Regions from separate parts of the Homo sapiens genome. Here all the other regions are linked to region 1. Evidence: fine-mapped expression QTL. A gene starts in region 1. Each other region holds a variant in brackets. All regions are shown on one strand. Distances are from middle to middle.

Evidence for each region. PIP is the estimated chance that this variant, and not a neighbour inherited with it, causes the effect.
Region 2: its variant is fine-mapped to the expression of SERGEF in whole blood (TOPMed, PIP 0.94).
Region 3: its variant is fine-mapped to the expression of SERGEF in whole blood (TOPMed, PIP 0.97).

What each region holds. Positions count from the first base shown.
Region 1 is chr11:18,010,187-18,015,417 of GRCh38, forward strand. It overlaps SERGEF (secretion regulating guanine nucleotide exchange factor), which reads right to left and starts at 2,861. Exons shown (of 11, transcript NM_012139.4): 1 at 2,765-2,861. The coding sequence starts at 2,824. RefSeq lists silencers at 118-177, 2,529-3,148 and enhancers at 1,136-1,653, 1,654-2,170, 3,529-3,578.
Region 2 is chr11:17,844,844-17,850,074 of GRCh38, forward strand. The region is part of intron 10 of SERGEF (secretion regulating guanine nucleotide exchange factor); the gene reads right to left. LOC124902642 (a long non-coding RNA gene) reads right to left here. Exons shown (of 2, transcript XR_007062610.1): 2 at 2,460-5,231. It overlaps LOC107984317 (a long non-coding RNA gene), which reads left to right and starts at 2,532. Exons shown (of 2, transcript XR_001748144.2): 1 at 2,532-5,231. The variant T/C (reference allele first, on the strand shown) is at 2,283.
Region 3 is chr11:18,081,643-18,086,873 of GRCh38, forward strand. SAAL1 (serum amyloid A like 1) reads right to left here. Exons shown (of 12, transcript NM_138421.3): 9 at 5,224-5,231; 10 at 1,893-2,089. Among named protein-coding and RNA genes, the nearest start is that of SAAL1, 22 kb to the right of the region's middle. The variant C/T (reference allele first, on the strand shown) is at 2,682.

The DNA.
Region 1 (5,231 bases):
ACATACTTACATACATACATACATAATCCTTCCCCTTGTAGTCTATTTCACAGCCATCCTGGGCTGCAAGGACTCAAAGATGGAAGAGTAAGCCATAGCAGGGGCATAAGTCCCAGAAGCCCACAGGGGGCAATATTAGCTACCAATTACTGAGTGCTTCTCTCCATACTGTGCATTCACCTTTAATCCTCACAACAACTAAGAAGGACATTATTACTCCCATTTCACAGAGGAAGAAACTAAGGCTCAGAGAGGTTAAGTAACTTTCCATAGTTATATCTGGGTAGGCAAAAAGTCTGATGCCCTGCACCTTTTACTATACCTTACTGTGTCTCTTAGAAAAAATAAAAAAAGGACATACAGTGAAGCAGCCCAGAGCTTACCTGACAGGTGGTTAACTGTATGACTTTATCTAAAAGAGCATCCCCATATCACTCATTTTCTGCTTTATTTTTCTTCATGCCACTTCTTGATGTTACATTATATATGACTACTTGTTTACTGTACACCACCCCTGCCAGAAACTAAACTCCAGGAGGGCAGGAACTCTGCTTTGCTCACTGCTGTTTCCCCTGCATCTGAAACTGTGCTGGCCCAAAGAAGATGTACATATATTTATATGGCGAATGAATGTAAGACCCTATGAAAGACTTGCTCAGCATGAAGGGGAATATAGAGCATATATGCACAGGATTTCTTGGTCAGCCCTGAGATCTCCGTGGCTGTCCCATTACCAGGGGTGCAAGGCTGCTGAACACCTGGGAGAAAAGTAACATGACACATGGGCACTCTGAGGTTCAAATTACGGTACCAATTTTTGTAACACTGTGAGAGGCCCTAAATCCAGGATAAAGCAAGACGAAGGGAAATTTAACACAACCTATTACAACTGTTGTTTGCCTTTCTTCCTCACAAACACTCCAGACATATCACACGTGCACATGCACACATACACACACACACACACACACACACACACACCCCTAACAAGGTAAATCCCCTTCCTGTGAACCGAACTTTATTCCCCCAAAATTCACGTGTTGAAGCCCTAACCTTTAGTACCTTACTGTATTTGGAAAGAAGGCCTTTAAAGGGGCAATTAAGGTTAAATGAGGTCATAAGGGTGGGGCCCTAATCCAATATGACTGGTGTCCTTAAAAGAAGAGACACCACGGATGCTCACGCACACAGAAAAGGCCATGTGAGGACACAGTGAAAAAAGCCATGTGAGGACACAGTGAGAAGGCGGCCATCTGCAAGCCAGAGAGAGGCCTCGGGAGAAACCAAACCTACTCACACCTTGATCTTGGCCTTCTAGCCTCTGGAACTGTGAGAAAATAAATTTCTGTTGTTTAAGCCTCTGTTGTGTGGTATTTTGTTATGGTAGCCCTAGCCGACCAACACACCCCCACAGTTTCAGATTATACAGCAGGAAAAACACACTACCAGTCCTCCAAACACAGCAGAAGGGTGTCAACAACCTATTAAACATATTTTACAACCTTTAATATTCGGCTTTGTCTGTACTGAAACAATATTTCTGTTTCCTCTGTCCACACAGACGCCAGTCTCCTGCCTGGAAAAAGCCAGAGACAGCACACATTCAATCCCCAACTCCACCCCCAGCTCCCGGGCCACCTCAAAGACGCCCAGCCAGCCAGACTACCGCAGGTCACGCCATGCTCTCCCTCCTGCCAAATTGCAGCCCCACATTCAACAATTGCCGCCTTGTACTGATCATTACTTCTTTAAAAATTGGACAACTAATACTGATTTTAACAGCAATACAGGTTATAATTTTGCTCTCCCCCAACACAAGAGCTGGAAGTCCTTCACTCGTGTATTTCACTCATGTGTATTTCCCCAACACCAGCACATGGGTAGGCACACAGATGCTCGTTCATTCATTCGTCAACGAGTATTTACTGGGGACCTACAATGTGCCAGACACCAAGAGAGGCACCGTGAACAAGACAGGCACAGCACCCACTCTTACCACACTTACTTTCCAGCCAGAGAGACTGACGTTAATAATAAATTATACACATCATTACAATTGTGATACGTGCTATGAAGAAGCACAAGACGCAGCGACTGCTTGTTCCCGTGCATGCTGGTCGGCCACCTGCCACGCTCCTGTGCATGAACCCTCCTCTCTCCCAGACACACATCAAGATGACCCTGTCTCTCCCAATGCTCCCGTCAAACCAACAGCAGCCCAACTCCCCCAACACATGCAAGAACCGGTCACAGCAGAGTGTCAGCAAATAGGCAGGGTCTGTGCCTTGTGCGCGGCCAAACACCGCAGGCCTCACATCTAAAGGATGCTTTCGCCAGGCTGGGACAGGGTCTCCCTCCTCCAGGCATCAGGAGTGTGGGGGGCACAGGTGGCCCCACGGAGCTCTGGGACCGGGCGATCCTCTCCACCGAGCCCTCCGCGCTGTCTTCCAGGCGCTATTCGGGCTGGAGGGCTCTCGCGGAACCAGACGCTCTGCCCCGAGGCAGGTTCTTCCCGCGGCGCCACAGCCCCTCCGGCCCTGACCCCGCCAGCCGGCAGGCCCCTAAGTCGACCGCGAAGACCCTTCCTTCCCCGCCCGCCCGCTCCTCCTCCGCTCCCCCTCCGCTCCCAGCCCAGGATCCTTCAACCCAGAGCCCGGCTCGGACCTCAGCCGCCCAGCCCCTGAACTGCCCACGCCGCGGCCAGCAGCTCCCACATCTCGGCGCCCCTCAGGGCCTGCACCGGCCCGGGGGCGGAGTCACGTACCCAGGCGAAGAGCGCGGCCGCCGCGGGGGCGGCCTCCGAGGCGCTGGGCTCGCGCTCCATGCGAGGACGCTCCGCCGGCGCTTCCGGGAGGGACGGCACGGGGGCGGCGCCTGCCGGGGGTAGGTGAGCGCCGGAGCCGGACCGGGGACGCGTGATGGGTAGGGCGCGGGGCGGGGTCTGTGGTGGGAAGCGGCCCGCAGGCCGGGAGAGAGGGTGCGGCCGGGCCCTCGGGCCACTGGGGATCAGTGGTGGGCGGGGCCGGACGACAGCCCCGGAGCCGCCTCCCAGTCAGCCCGCCCCGGCGGCGCTCGCAGCGTCTCCGCCCGCAGCCTCCTGTCTCGCTGGGCCTCTCAGCCTCTCGCTCCTACCCCCTCGTACTCTTTATTTTTAGTCATAATTTCATGTTTCATGCAGGTGCACTGCGCGCCACAGTTCACAAAGCTCCTTCGCGTTTTTGTCTCCTTGGAGGCCCACGACAGCCCAGAGGGGCTGACAGGGCAGCGATGGCATCACCATTTGCGGGAACAGGAAATGGAGCCTGAGGGGTAGGGCAGGGTCCTGCCCGGCGTCTCAGGCGCAATTGTCTTGAGCCCGCTTTGGTGTGCGTTCGCAAACATCTGAGGGGGCGCCTTGGGAGGCGAGTGGAGTGGCACGTCGCCGGTGTCGCCCTCTGCACCTGGCACGGAGCGGGAACCCGCGCCTCGCGACGCTGAATGGGGGAGGCTGGTTAGCGTCGACTCCTGCCGGGGCAGCCTCGGCGCTCCGGGCACGGCCCTGAGCTCATTCTATTAATAATACTGGATAATCGTCACCCAACGAACATTTCCATATAAAATGGCTTTTCTCAGACAGCGTCGTGTTGCTGATGGGAGTTAATTAAGTTCAATTTATCTGAAGGAAAATATGGCACCGCGTACCGGGAATACAGAACACATAGGGTCACATTAAAGATGATCATCCACATTCACATTCGGTAGCACTTGGCCCCTCTGCTGACACGGGCCTCCAGCACTCACTGCCCTTCACCCCTGGGCTTCTGGGAAGTGTCTCCAATGAGCTCTTACACTGTCCTTTCCTGTTCTTTCACTCCATCCACTTTTAGGAGTTTCTGCCTGTAAGACCACTTGAGGGCAGCCCCTCACCTTTATCTCTCCAACCTGTGGCATCTGGAGAACGTCGATGACCATACCAAGAAAAAAGCAAACTTTGGAGAGATAAAACAGCTCTTCATTCTCTAGGGATCTGAATGTGCAGGAGCTATACCATGCTTACTGACTGTCTTATGAGTGGGCTTTTTTGTGCTGACCATTTCTTTGAAGCATGTGTAACAGGATGTAAAAATGGGATCCTTCACCGCTCAGTTTTGGCTGAGCAACAAGTGCCAGTTACTCCTATATCATAAAGTAAGGTTCAAGACCACCAAAGCAGGTCTTGCAAAGCAACTGTCTAGAAACCAGTGTATGACTTTCAGTCTACGAAAAAGGTTGAGAGGCCAGAGAGAATTCTAGTAGGATATGTGGCCACAATTATCAATGTGGTGTGGGTCTCAACCCATCTCAGGTCTAAGGAAAGTTACTTTACCTGGGTCCCTGAGAGAGCTTGGTATGCATCCCTCTAGATTTAGGACCCAGACAGGCTTCTGTCCAATCCGTTCTGAGAAATACAAGGGCTTGTGGCTGGATATCTGCTCTAATAGCTGAGCAAAGACAAACTGATGCTTTGGGGAGGTCTTTCACACCCACAGTTTTTCAAAATAAAAACTGTCCATTTCCCATGTGAGTATTTCCCATACCTGAGCAAACTGGCTGGGGGATGGTCTTAGACCTTGTCCAAGAGAATTTCTGGAAGGGTGAAGTGACACCCACAGGACAGTCGATCACTAGATTCCTTGAGGGTGAGGGAAATGAATTTAACAGCCCAGAGAGATACATTTACCTACATCAAGAAATCCCAAGAAATAAGAAGGTGGGAAGGTCTTCCAAAATGCCCACAAGAAAATGTCAGCATGTAATATTTACAAAGTACAGAAAGCACTGATGACAATTCACAACAGTATCAGACCAAAAAGAACTTTTCTCCTCCTTACCTCTCCTCCCCTCTACATCTCCCCAACCCTGGAGGAGTCCCAGGCATCCACTGAGTAACAAGAGACAAGGAAATTAAGAAACTAAGCACACCCACTCCTTTCTCAGTTCTGGAGGAGGAAAAAAGCTTCAACCTTAAAGTTTGTTTTATCAAAGTTTTTCCACAGGACTAGCCTTTTTAAATATTGAAATGAGAAAGAGAGAGAGAGAGAGAGAGTGTGTGTGTGTGTGTGTGTGTGTGAGAGAGAGAGAGAGAGAGAGAGAGAGAGAGAGAGAGAGAGAGAGAAATGGAAATTAGGAGCTAAGGACTTTTTATTACCTGTGAGCAAGCAGAAAGTCAGGCAGCAACCTGAGATTTCATCCAGAAGGGCAAGGAAGAACTA
Region 2 (5,231 bases), 170 kb before region 1:
ACTGGAAGAAGAATTGGGCCACACAAAAAGTACACTAACAACAGCTAATGAGCTTAAAAAAAAACAAAACAAAACAAACAAACAAAAAAAACAGAACAAAAAACCCCTGTTTTAAGAAAGTTTACAAATTTGTGTTGGGCTGCATTCAAAGCTGTCCTGGGCCACATGCAGCTCGCTGCCCGTGGGTTAGCAAGGCTGCTCTAAGACAATGAGTGTAGGTAGGCCCTTCTATAGGTCCTCTGAGTTCATGGAGCAACTTCTCAGCAGCCATCTCCACCAGGTTCCCTTCTTCTGTTGTTTCACTGTGGTTTGCCTCTGTAACTGCTTGTTCGAGAACTCTGTCAGCAAACTCTACATGCTCTGCTTCAACTTCTTCATGTCCATTTTTTTTTATAGCCTTAGCATAACAAAGTTAAATTTGATTTACCTTTGGGGGCTCAGCTATCAAAGCCTACTCCTTCTTCTACTCTCAGGCCATCGGCCCTGGGGCTGATAAGGAAACACAGAAGCAGTGGTTAGAGGCGTAAGTAGAAGACTCAGTAGAGCTCACTGTTAGAAAAGCCAAGTGCAGAAAGGGTTCCAAACAGGGGCACAGCAGCAGTGCTGAGTGAAGAGGCAGCCTCAGTAGGAATGGGGTGTCTCAAGACTTGGGCTCAGCTGACTGGCCTCTCCATCCTGGCTCTGTTCACTGATATACTAGGCAAGACACACCCTTCTTTTAGCCTCATTTTTCCCATTTGTAAGTGAAGAAATTGAATTAGCTTGTGTCCATGTTTCCCATCCAGATTCTGAAATTTGAGATTTTCATTTTTTTTCCTTTGGCATTGGATACAAATGACTAAGACTGATACTGTGACTCATGTTTATAATCCATAACCACAGAGTCTGAAATCTTAGAGCTAAAAGAGATTGACCAATACAATTCTCTCTTTTCTACTCATTTGATGATAAAGAAACTAAGGTCCAGAGAGGGCCCACTTCCAGGTCTATAGAACTGGGAATTGGGTGCTTAGAAATTTGCAGTTCTGATAGTCACCAGGTGATTAAGTTCTGGAAGGGCAGGAACTATCTGTCTTGTTCTCCACTGCATTACTGGCCAGATTTTTTTAAATGCTTGTTGAGTGAATGAATGAACAAATAATCTCCCTCCAACGTCATGCAGCCTGGGACCAGGGAAGTATCCTTACTCCTTGCCTGGAGGTAGGGGCAGATAAGACTGAAGCCACAGACTGCTTCTGGCCCCTAAAGGGATGGTGCTCTCTAGCTGGGGAGACAGAACAGAGCCAGGAACAAATTCTCAAGGTTGGTGGTGCCAGCAGCTCTTGGCCATAAAGTGGGCTTCTACTAGAGTCCTTCGTGCTGTGCATAATGAATCACGGTATGTCAATTACTGCATTCTGTTAACAAGCTCATGTCCACCTGTGTATCGCCAATGAGTGCCTTGCAATTTGCCACAGCTCTGCAGTTAATACACGGCAGAACAAGTGGGGCAGAGGATTCTGAAACACTCCAGGCCCAGGGAAATCAGGTGGTTGGTTTGTTTTTGGCAACTACTGGGCTTGATGATTGGGCAGCAGTATGTAGAGATGTATTCTCTCCTCTCTGGGGAAAGGGTCTGTGTCCTGGGTCTTTCCTGTCCTGATTCAGATAAGTTCAGATGGAGAACACCATCTTTGTATTTTTTTTTCTCTGAAGTATTGAACAAAACGGGGCAGAGGCAGAATGGTAATTAAAAAATCACCTCCAGCATGGTTTGATGGTCTGGTCATCCGATCATCAGCACTGAAGTCTCTCACAGGATTCAAAAATGGCTCCATGACACATGAACACTGTGATCTTGAGTATATCTCTTAATTTCTCTGCAACTCCATTTCCACATCAGCAAAACTGGGATAATAATACTTACCTTGCAGAGATACTGCAAAGATTAAATGAGAGAATGCATATTGAACCCAGAATGGTGGCTGACATGTAGCAGGTATATAATAGATGAGCCTCCTAGTATGTTAGAGGTGTTTCCTGAAGGGATTCTAATCTCCTGAGGAAGACTAGGGCCCAAGACCTTAAGCAAACCCAGGCAAGAGCCTCTGTGTCTTAGATGTGTGTGTGTATTACCCCCTAGTGGCTCCACAGTAATGATTACAACTGCAGTCATGTGAGGATGTCAGATCTGCACCTCACCTCCACACTGGCTGTGCGAGAAGTGAGCAAGCCTCCTGGTGACAGGGGAGGCTGTTCCTTTATCAGGCAGCACCGCTGCAGCCCCTGACCTACTTTCTTAC[T/C]AAAAATAGCTCTTCTTAGGTCACTGCCGCAAATTGAATTCCACTGCTTCACTGCACCCTGTAAGCAGGTGGGTGGGCGCCAGAGCACATTTGGTGAGCTGCAAGCCTCTGCTTATGTGGTGCATTGCTGCCCAAGGATGCTAATTCCACATGCCTGAGCAGACGGCAGAACGTGTCTGCACTCAGCAGGGCTGTACGTGACCCTGCTGGGGTTCCTTTATTTGGGGGGAAGGGGGACAGGGAGGGGCAGTGAGGGAAATTCTAGATCCAGTTTTGAAGTCTGACAGAACTGAATTGAAACACAGCATCCAATGCTTTCTTATTTGACCTTGGGAAAGTCACAACTTCTCTTTGCCTCAGTTTTCTCATCTGTAAAATGGAGAAAATAAAACTGACCTTAAAGTATGATTGTATAGATATTTTAAAACGCTATTTACAAAGCAGTCTTTGGCACAGAAGAGGAGCCCAATAATGAAGCTAGTACAGGTATTCTCCATTGTATGGCCTGTTGCTCCACATGCCCTCCAGCTAAAGCCTCTCATAGCAGGGGGAGCAAGGGACAGAAGGCCAATCAAAGAATTAGGAAGATTTTAAGCTGAAAGGGCTTTAGCAGTACTGAGGTCAAAGGTTCTCAGACATGGCTGAGCATCCCAATAACTGGTAGCCTGTTAATAATACTGATTCCAGGTCCTTATCCGGGAGACTGGGACTCAAGAAGTCTGTCTAGGGGCCAGGGTATCTGCAATTTAATAAGCTCTCCAGGTGATTCTGATGAACTGCCAAGTTTGAGAACCTCTGAACTAGGTCAGTCACCTTGTTAAAGTAAATGAGTAAATGAATTACTACTATTTTTCTTCCATTATAAGCACAATGCATAGTCATTATAAAATATGCAGAAAACATGGAAAAGCAAAAAATCAAAATAAAAAAGTAAAAATTCAATCATATATTGAGTGATTATTAAATGCCAGGCCCTTTGCTGAATCCTAGGGATTTGTTGATAACACAATTCTGACCCTAAGGAAGGCCCAGTCTATGTGCAGAGATGGAAACAAACAAGAAGACTGTAACAGAGGACATATGTGTTAGAGCCAAGTTACAAATTTTATAGAAAGAAGGATGAAGGAGCAACTGATTCCACCTAGGAAGTCAGGGAAATTTGCAGAGCTGGACTAGAAGAAGAGCAGATATTCATGGCGAGACAAGGGAGTAAAGGGAATTTCAGGAGGAATGAACCAGACATACAAAAGCATACAGGGATGAAAGGTATTTGTTAGGAAAATGTCCTAAGGTCACCATAGTGAGGTCACCATATACAGTAAATAGTGGTGGCACAAAGACAGCTGGTGTGAACATCTGGGTCTGGATCATGAAGGGTGTGGATAACATCAACAATGCTTCCTACACTGGAAAGTATATTTCCCAGTATATTTTTCATATGTGCCTTTTTGTTTTCATTTTTACATGACCAATGCTGCAATTCTTACTTAATAAACACTACAAATTAGTGAAGCAGATAGGTCATCTTTTATCCATTACCAAATGTTAGTAAAATTAGGTAGCTCCTAATTTTACTAAATTATAAAAAGACTATGATGAACATCTTTAACCATAAAGTTTTTTTCCATATTTAAGATCTTTCCTTAGAGAAGAATGCTAGGATATGAATTAATAAATGAAAGTGAATGGACATCTTCAAGGCTCTTGATAATAGCTCCAAAGGATTTTCCAAAAGTGGCACAGATGTTTTTATAAATGAGGAGATAAGGCCCAAAGAGGTTCCATGTCTTGTCCAGATTATACAGTCGAATGGGGCGGTACCAAGAGCAACATCTGGGTCTCCCAACCCCCACTCTAGCTCTCTTTCTTCTGACCACATTGCTTTTCTACAAATCATAGAGAGATGAAATAATATCTATTCACCCAATGCTTCCAATCAATTCTAAGTATTTTAGGTTGGCAATGTACATGCATAGGAGATGTGAGTAACATGTGTGTGTTTACATGCACATGTGAAGCTCTATATACGAGTCTATTTTTCCATCCTTATCATGTATGCTCCCCTACCAATGACAATTTTTGTTCTAGCCAAGCTGAGCAAATCTTACATTGTCTTACCTCCACACCGTTGATCCTACATGAAGTATCTCTTGTTCTCCTAGTCAAATTCTATGCATATTTTTAAAATCCAAAAAGCATTTCCTGACTCTGGGCACTTACTATCAACAAGAGTCATACGTGATACTTACTTTATTGCTTTGCAGCAGCTCTGGTATTGATATAAAATTATTTAAGTTTTACCTATACAATAAAAGCTGCCTCCAGCTTCTGTTATTAGAAAGGGATAAAACAACCCCCCCAACCCCACCCTTGAGGCTAATGAAAAGACTTCTAGCATTTGATGGGCTGAAGACAGGTAAGGCCAATCCCTTGTACCTTCTATATCTACAGTAGTAGACATCTTGGTAGACTGGAAAGAGCACAGGACCAGGAGACAGAATAATAATAGCTTCCATGTGCTGAGGACCTACTCTGACCAGGCACAATGCTGGTTGCTTTATATACATTATTTAGAATCCTTAAAATTACCCCCAGCAAGGGAAATATTATTTGACCCATTTTACAGATGAGGAATCTTAGGACCTGAGAGATTAATTTATTCACGGTCAATACCATCAGTAAGTGGCAAAATCAGGATTTAAACTCAAGTATGTCTTACTCAAAAATCTATGTTTTTTTCTGCTTTACTATATTATGTCTCAGCAAATGTCATTTCAGTTCTATCTCTGTTACTTTCAAGATACATGATCTTCTCCTGGTCTTTTTTTCTGTTGCTATAACCGAATACCACAGGCTGGATAATTTATAAAGAAGTTGATTTGGCTCACAGTTCTGGAGGCTGGAAAGTCCAAGAGCATGGTGCTGGTATCTAGTGAGGGTCATGCTAGG
Region 3 (5,231 bases), 71 kb after region 1:
AGGAGGCTTATGTAACCCAAACATGTTCTCCACTGTCGTCTTTACTTTAGTGAAGGGCACCACCATCCACCCTGCTACACAGACTACAAACTTGGAACACAGCCAAGACTTTTCCTTCTCCCCTCCTGCTGACTCCTCCCGGCAAGTGCTCAATTCTATTCTACCAAATCTCTCTTACCCCCATCCCTCCTCTCCATTCAAACTTCCATTGTTTAGGCTGCCATCATTTTTCAGATTATTCTTGAAGATTACCAACCACAAGAGCCTGTTAGTTGATCTCCTGCCCTCCAGCCTCAACTCTCTCTACTCCTTCCTCTCTATTGCTTTTGGAGTAATCTTTCTAAACTGATCGTATCACTTGGTGCTTAAAAGTAAAAAATCTTTAGTAGTTCCTCAGCTTTTTCAAGATGAAGTCTAAATCCCCTAAATATGACATAAGAATTTGCATGACATAGCACTCGTGTATTCTCAGCCCACCTTTCTTTGATGTTCCCACCACTTAAAAGTTAAGAAATATCGATGTCCCTTGCTCCAAAAAACAGAAACAACAGCAAAGAATGGGAAAAAAATACATGCGATAAATATGGAAAAGATACATTATTACCCAAGAAATTCATACAAATAATCAAAATGGATAAATTATTAAAAGGTAGGAAACAAATTAACATACGACATCCAAATATTTCAATCTCATTAATTTAAAAATGCAAATCAAAGTAAGACACAATTTATTACCTGAACTTTGACATAAAAATTATAATACCCAATAATAAGCGTCAAGTAAAACCAACATTTTCACATATAAATAGCATTTTGACAAAATATGGCCATCATGACTTAGCCATCTTCACATTTATAATGTTGAATCCAGTAATTTAAATTATATAAAACCTGCTAAGGTAATAACCCCAAATCTGGAAAATACAAATATGGAAAAGGGAAGCAAGACAACTAATAAAAAAAAAATCACCAGAATAAGAGAAACTTTTTGTTTCATTTTGTTTTTTGAGATAGGGTCTCACTCTGTCGCTCAGGTTGGAGTGTAGTGGCACAGTCTGGGCTCACTGCAGCCTCGACCTCCTGGGCTCAAGCAATCCTTCCATCTTTGCCTCCCAAGTAGCTAGGATCACAGGCGTGTGCCACCATGCCCAGCTAATTTTTGTATTTTTTGTAGAGATGAGGTTTTGCCATGTTGCCCAAACTGGTCTCAAACTCCTGGGCTCAAGTGATCCACCTGCCTCAGCCTCCCAAGTGCTGGGATTATAGGCGCCTGGCCAAGAGAAACTTCTTAAGGAATACTCTTTAAAAAATTAAGTGGGTATGAATAAATATATTCTTCACAGCTATATTTATAACATTTTATATTCATAATACAATATATTCATAACATATTCATAATACATTTCTTTCCAAATATATGGATAGAAAAAACATGGTCAAAAGAAGAATATTAATAACCATTGAACATATTCAGGGAGAATGTTCCTTAAAAGAAGTTTGCAGTAAATTTTGAAAACTGATTATTTGGTAAATTAGGTTTAAACTGGCTCTCAGTAAAAAAGTCTTTCATCTAGAATCAAGAAAAATGTTTATAATACAGTGTTAAGGGAAAACAGTAGTCTATAAAAATTGCATATGCTGGGTTAAAGTATATGAAAAATGCATTTATAAAAACACATGCATGCAAACATAGGCATATGTCTGTCACACGTAAATATACCAAACCACATCAGCTAGTTGTTTTTAAGATTATAAACTCATGGTGATATTAAGATTTTACTTTATTTTCCCAAATTATATATTACTTTCATATTTAAAAAAAAATAAAGTTTGAAGCGTTAAGCAACCCACACTTTCTTTTGCTTATGACATCATCAATACTTCTTTCCTACCTTTGTTAATGCCTGAAAAATATTAGAAAGAAATTCACATAAAATATCCTTTAAGATTTTCAAGTGGAAATCATCTTGGGTTAAATCAGTCCTTTTAGTTTCCTCTGTGTTAGACTCTGCCGAGTTCTCTGGTTTTTTCTGACACTGTTCCATATTTTGTAAGACCCGAATGAGGCTGTCAATTAGAGGAAGATCTACTGTATAAACAAATCAAGAAGCATGGAATTGGCCAGTTAAGTTTGGTTTTTCATTCATATGTATTGAATTAGTGCTAGACATTATTATTTTGGGTATTACAGATACACTGGTAACATCAGCAAGATGTCAGCCCATAAGAGGCTTACATTTTTATACTTTCAAATAAGTAAATAAAACAGACTATTTCAGGTTTTGGTTAAGTTCTATGAAGGAAATAAAAGAGGAATATAATATAGCAGCCTAGCAGGGCTAGCTCTCTGACAAGGTAACATTGAGTTGAGAACTAAAGCAATGAAGCATCAGCAATTAAAATACCCTAGGAGGTCAGGGGTGGTAGCTCACGCTTGTAATCTGAGCAGTTTGAGAGGCCAAGATGGGCGGGTAGCTTGAGCCCAGGAGTTCGAGACCAGCCTGAGCAATATGGTGAAACCGTGTCTTTACAAAAAGTACAAAAAAATTAGCTCACAGGATTTTTCTACCACTACCACTGTTACCATCTTGGTCCAAGTTATAACATTTCTTGCTATGAGTCAATTATGAAGAATCTCTAAAAGCCTCCTAACTCATGTCCCTTTTGTACCCATGACTCCC[C/T]ATATTTCTCATCAAAACAGCAGCCTATTAAAGCCAGCTCATGCGTAGGCAACTTCTGCTTAAAACCCACCATGGTTCCCCACCTCATTCAGAGGAAAAGGCAACATCAGGCCCTCCATACTCTACCTCTCTGGCTCCATGTGCTACTTTGCTAAATCCACCCCAGCCATATGGGATCTCACTGTTCCTCCTCAAAGACACCAGGCATACTTCTGGTTGAAGGCTTTTACACTTTCCATTCCCTCTGTCTGGAATGTTCTTCTCCCCAAGTATGCACATGACTCCCTCCATTCTGTCCCTAAGGACTGTACTCAATGCCACCTTCTCAATGAGGTAACGTATCTACAAATGAAGATCTTAAAAATATTCAACATTCCTTTTTTATTAAAAACTCTTAATAAAATAGAAACAGATTAATATTTCCTTAAATGGTAAGACATATATCTGTTTTTGGAGGGGGGGTGCGGAGTATTGCTCTGCTGCCCAGGCTGGAGTACAATGGCGTGATTTCAGCTCACTGCAGCCTCTGCCTCCCAGGTTCGAGCAACTCTCCTGCCTCAGCCTTCTGAGTAACTGAGATTACAGGCATGCGTCACCAAGCCTGGCTAATTTTTGTATTTTTAGCAGAGACAGGGTTTCACCATGTTAGCCAGACTGACTTTGAACTCCTGACCTCAGGTAATCTGCCCGCCTCAGCCTCCCAAAGTGCTGGGATTATAGGTGTGAGCCACAGCACCTGGCTGTAAAACATATATCTTATACCCAATAATGCTTAACAATGGAACTCTAGGATTATTCCTACTAAAATCAGGAAGAAGGTAAGGATGTTTTCTACCATCACTATTATTTTACACCAGAGACTCTAGGCAACCCAGAAAGACAAGAAGAATAAACCAGAGATAGACAAGTGATAAAATATATCTAACTTAAGCCAAAGCACTATCAGATAAAGCCCAAAGATTATTACTGGAACGACTACTAAAAATATTAAGAATTTGGTAAGGTTACAGGATACAAAGTTAATATACCAAAATCAATAGCCTTCATATATTCCAACAATAATAATCAGTGGAAGAAAATATGTCACAGACAATAGTAAACCCAAAAGATACAATTATCTAGGAATGAAACTAATAAGAAATATCCAAGATCCATATGAAGAAACCATTACTGAGGGACACAAAAAAGACCTGAACAAATAAAAGGGCATAACATATCCTATCAAGTTAACACGATGTCAACAAAAATGTCAGAAATTTTTTGTTTTTGGAACTCAAAGTTAGTGATAAAAATAGTTAAAAACATTCTGAAAACTTAGAATGAAGAGGAATTTGCCTTATTAGGTATTAAAACATAAAACCTTAATATTTAAAAACACTATGGCTACTAATATATGAATACAGCAATGGAACTGAACAGAATATATAGGGGAATTTTAAAAATAATGATGAAATTTCAAATCAGTGTGGGTAAGCTGGATTATTCACTAAATGATGTTGAGATAACTGGGTAGCCCTCTGGGAAAAAACTGATACCACTAGAACCAAAGTTATCAAAGGGGGAAAAAAAATTAAAGCCACACTTCACATGTGACACGAGAATAAATTCTAAATGAATCATGAATTTAATTGTGGTCATAAAAACAATTCTGTGAAAGAATATGTGTTTATATAGGAAAATATTCATTTTATATTTCTAAATGAAATGTTGGCTAAAAAGCAGAATTAAATATATGTGCATGTGTGGGATGGTAAGATTACAAACATCATGTTTCCTTGATATTTTTTATAAATTTTTCGGCAGGGTGCAGTGGCTCATGCCTGTAATCCCAGCACTCTGGAAGGCAAGGCAGGAAGGTCATTTGAGCCCAGGAGTTTGTGACAAGCCTGGGCAAGATTGTGAGACCCTGTCTCTATAAATATTTAAAAACTAGCCAGGTGTGGCGTCATGTGCCTGTAGTCCCAGCTACTCAGGAGGCTGAGGTGAGACAATCACCTGAGCCCAGGAATTCAAGGTTGCAGTGAGCTATGATCCTGCCACTGCACTACAGCCTGGGCAACAAAATAAGACTCTGGCTTTAAAATAAGTAAACAGGCCAGGTGGGGTGGCTCACGCCTGTAATCCCAGCACTTTGGGAGGCCGAGGTGGGTGGATCACCTGAGGTCGGGAGTTCGAGCCCAGCCTGGCCAACACGGTAAAAACCCGTCTCTACTGAAAAAATACAAAAATTAGCTGGGCATAGTGGTGTGCGCCTGTAATCCCAGGTACTTGGGAGGCTGAGGCACGAGAATCACTTGAACCCAGGAGGCAGAGGTTACACTGAGCCAAGATTGTACCACTGCACTCCAGCCTGTGCAACACAGCAAGACTCTGTTTCCAAAAAATAAAAATCAATAAAAAATAAAATAAATAAATATGATAATAAAATAAATTTTTGAAGTTTAGCATGTAATGTTTTTATAATTAGGGAAATGAAAGCATTTTTTAAAAGGGAGAAATAAATGAAATGAAAAACAGTATGAGCCTGGGAAACTGTACTTGCCTTTTTCT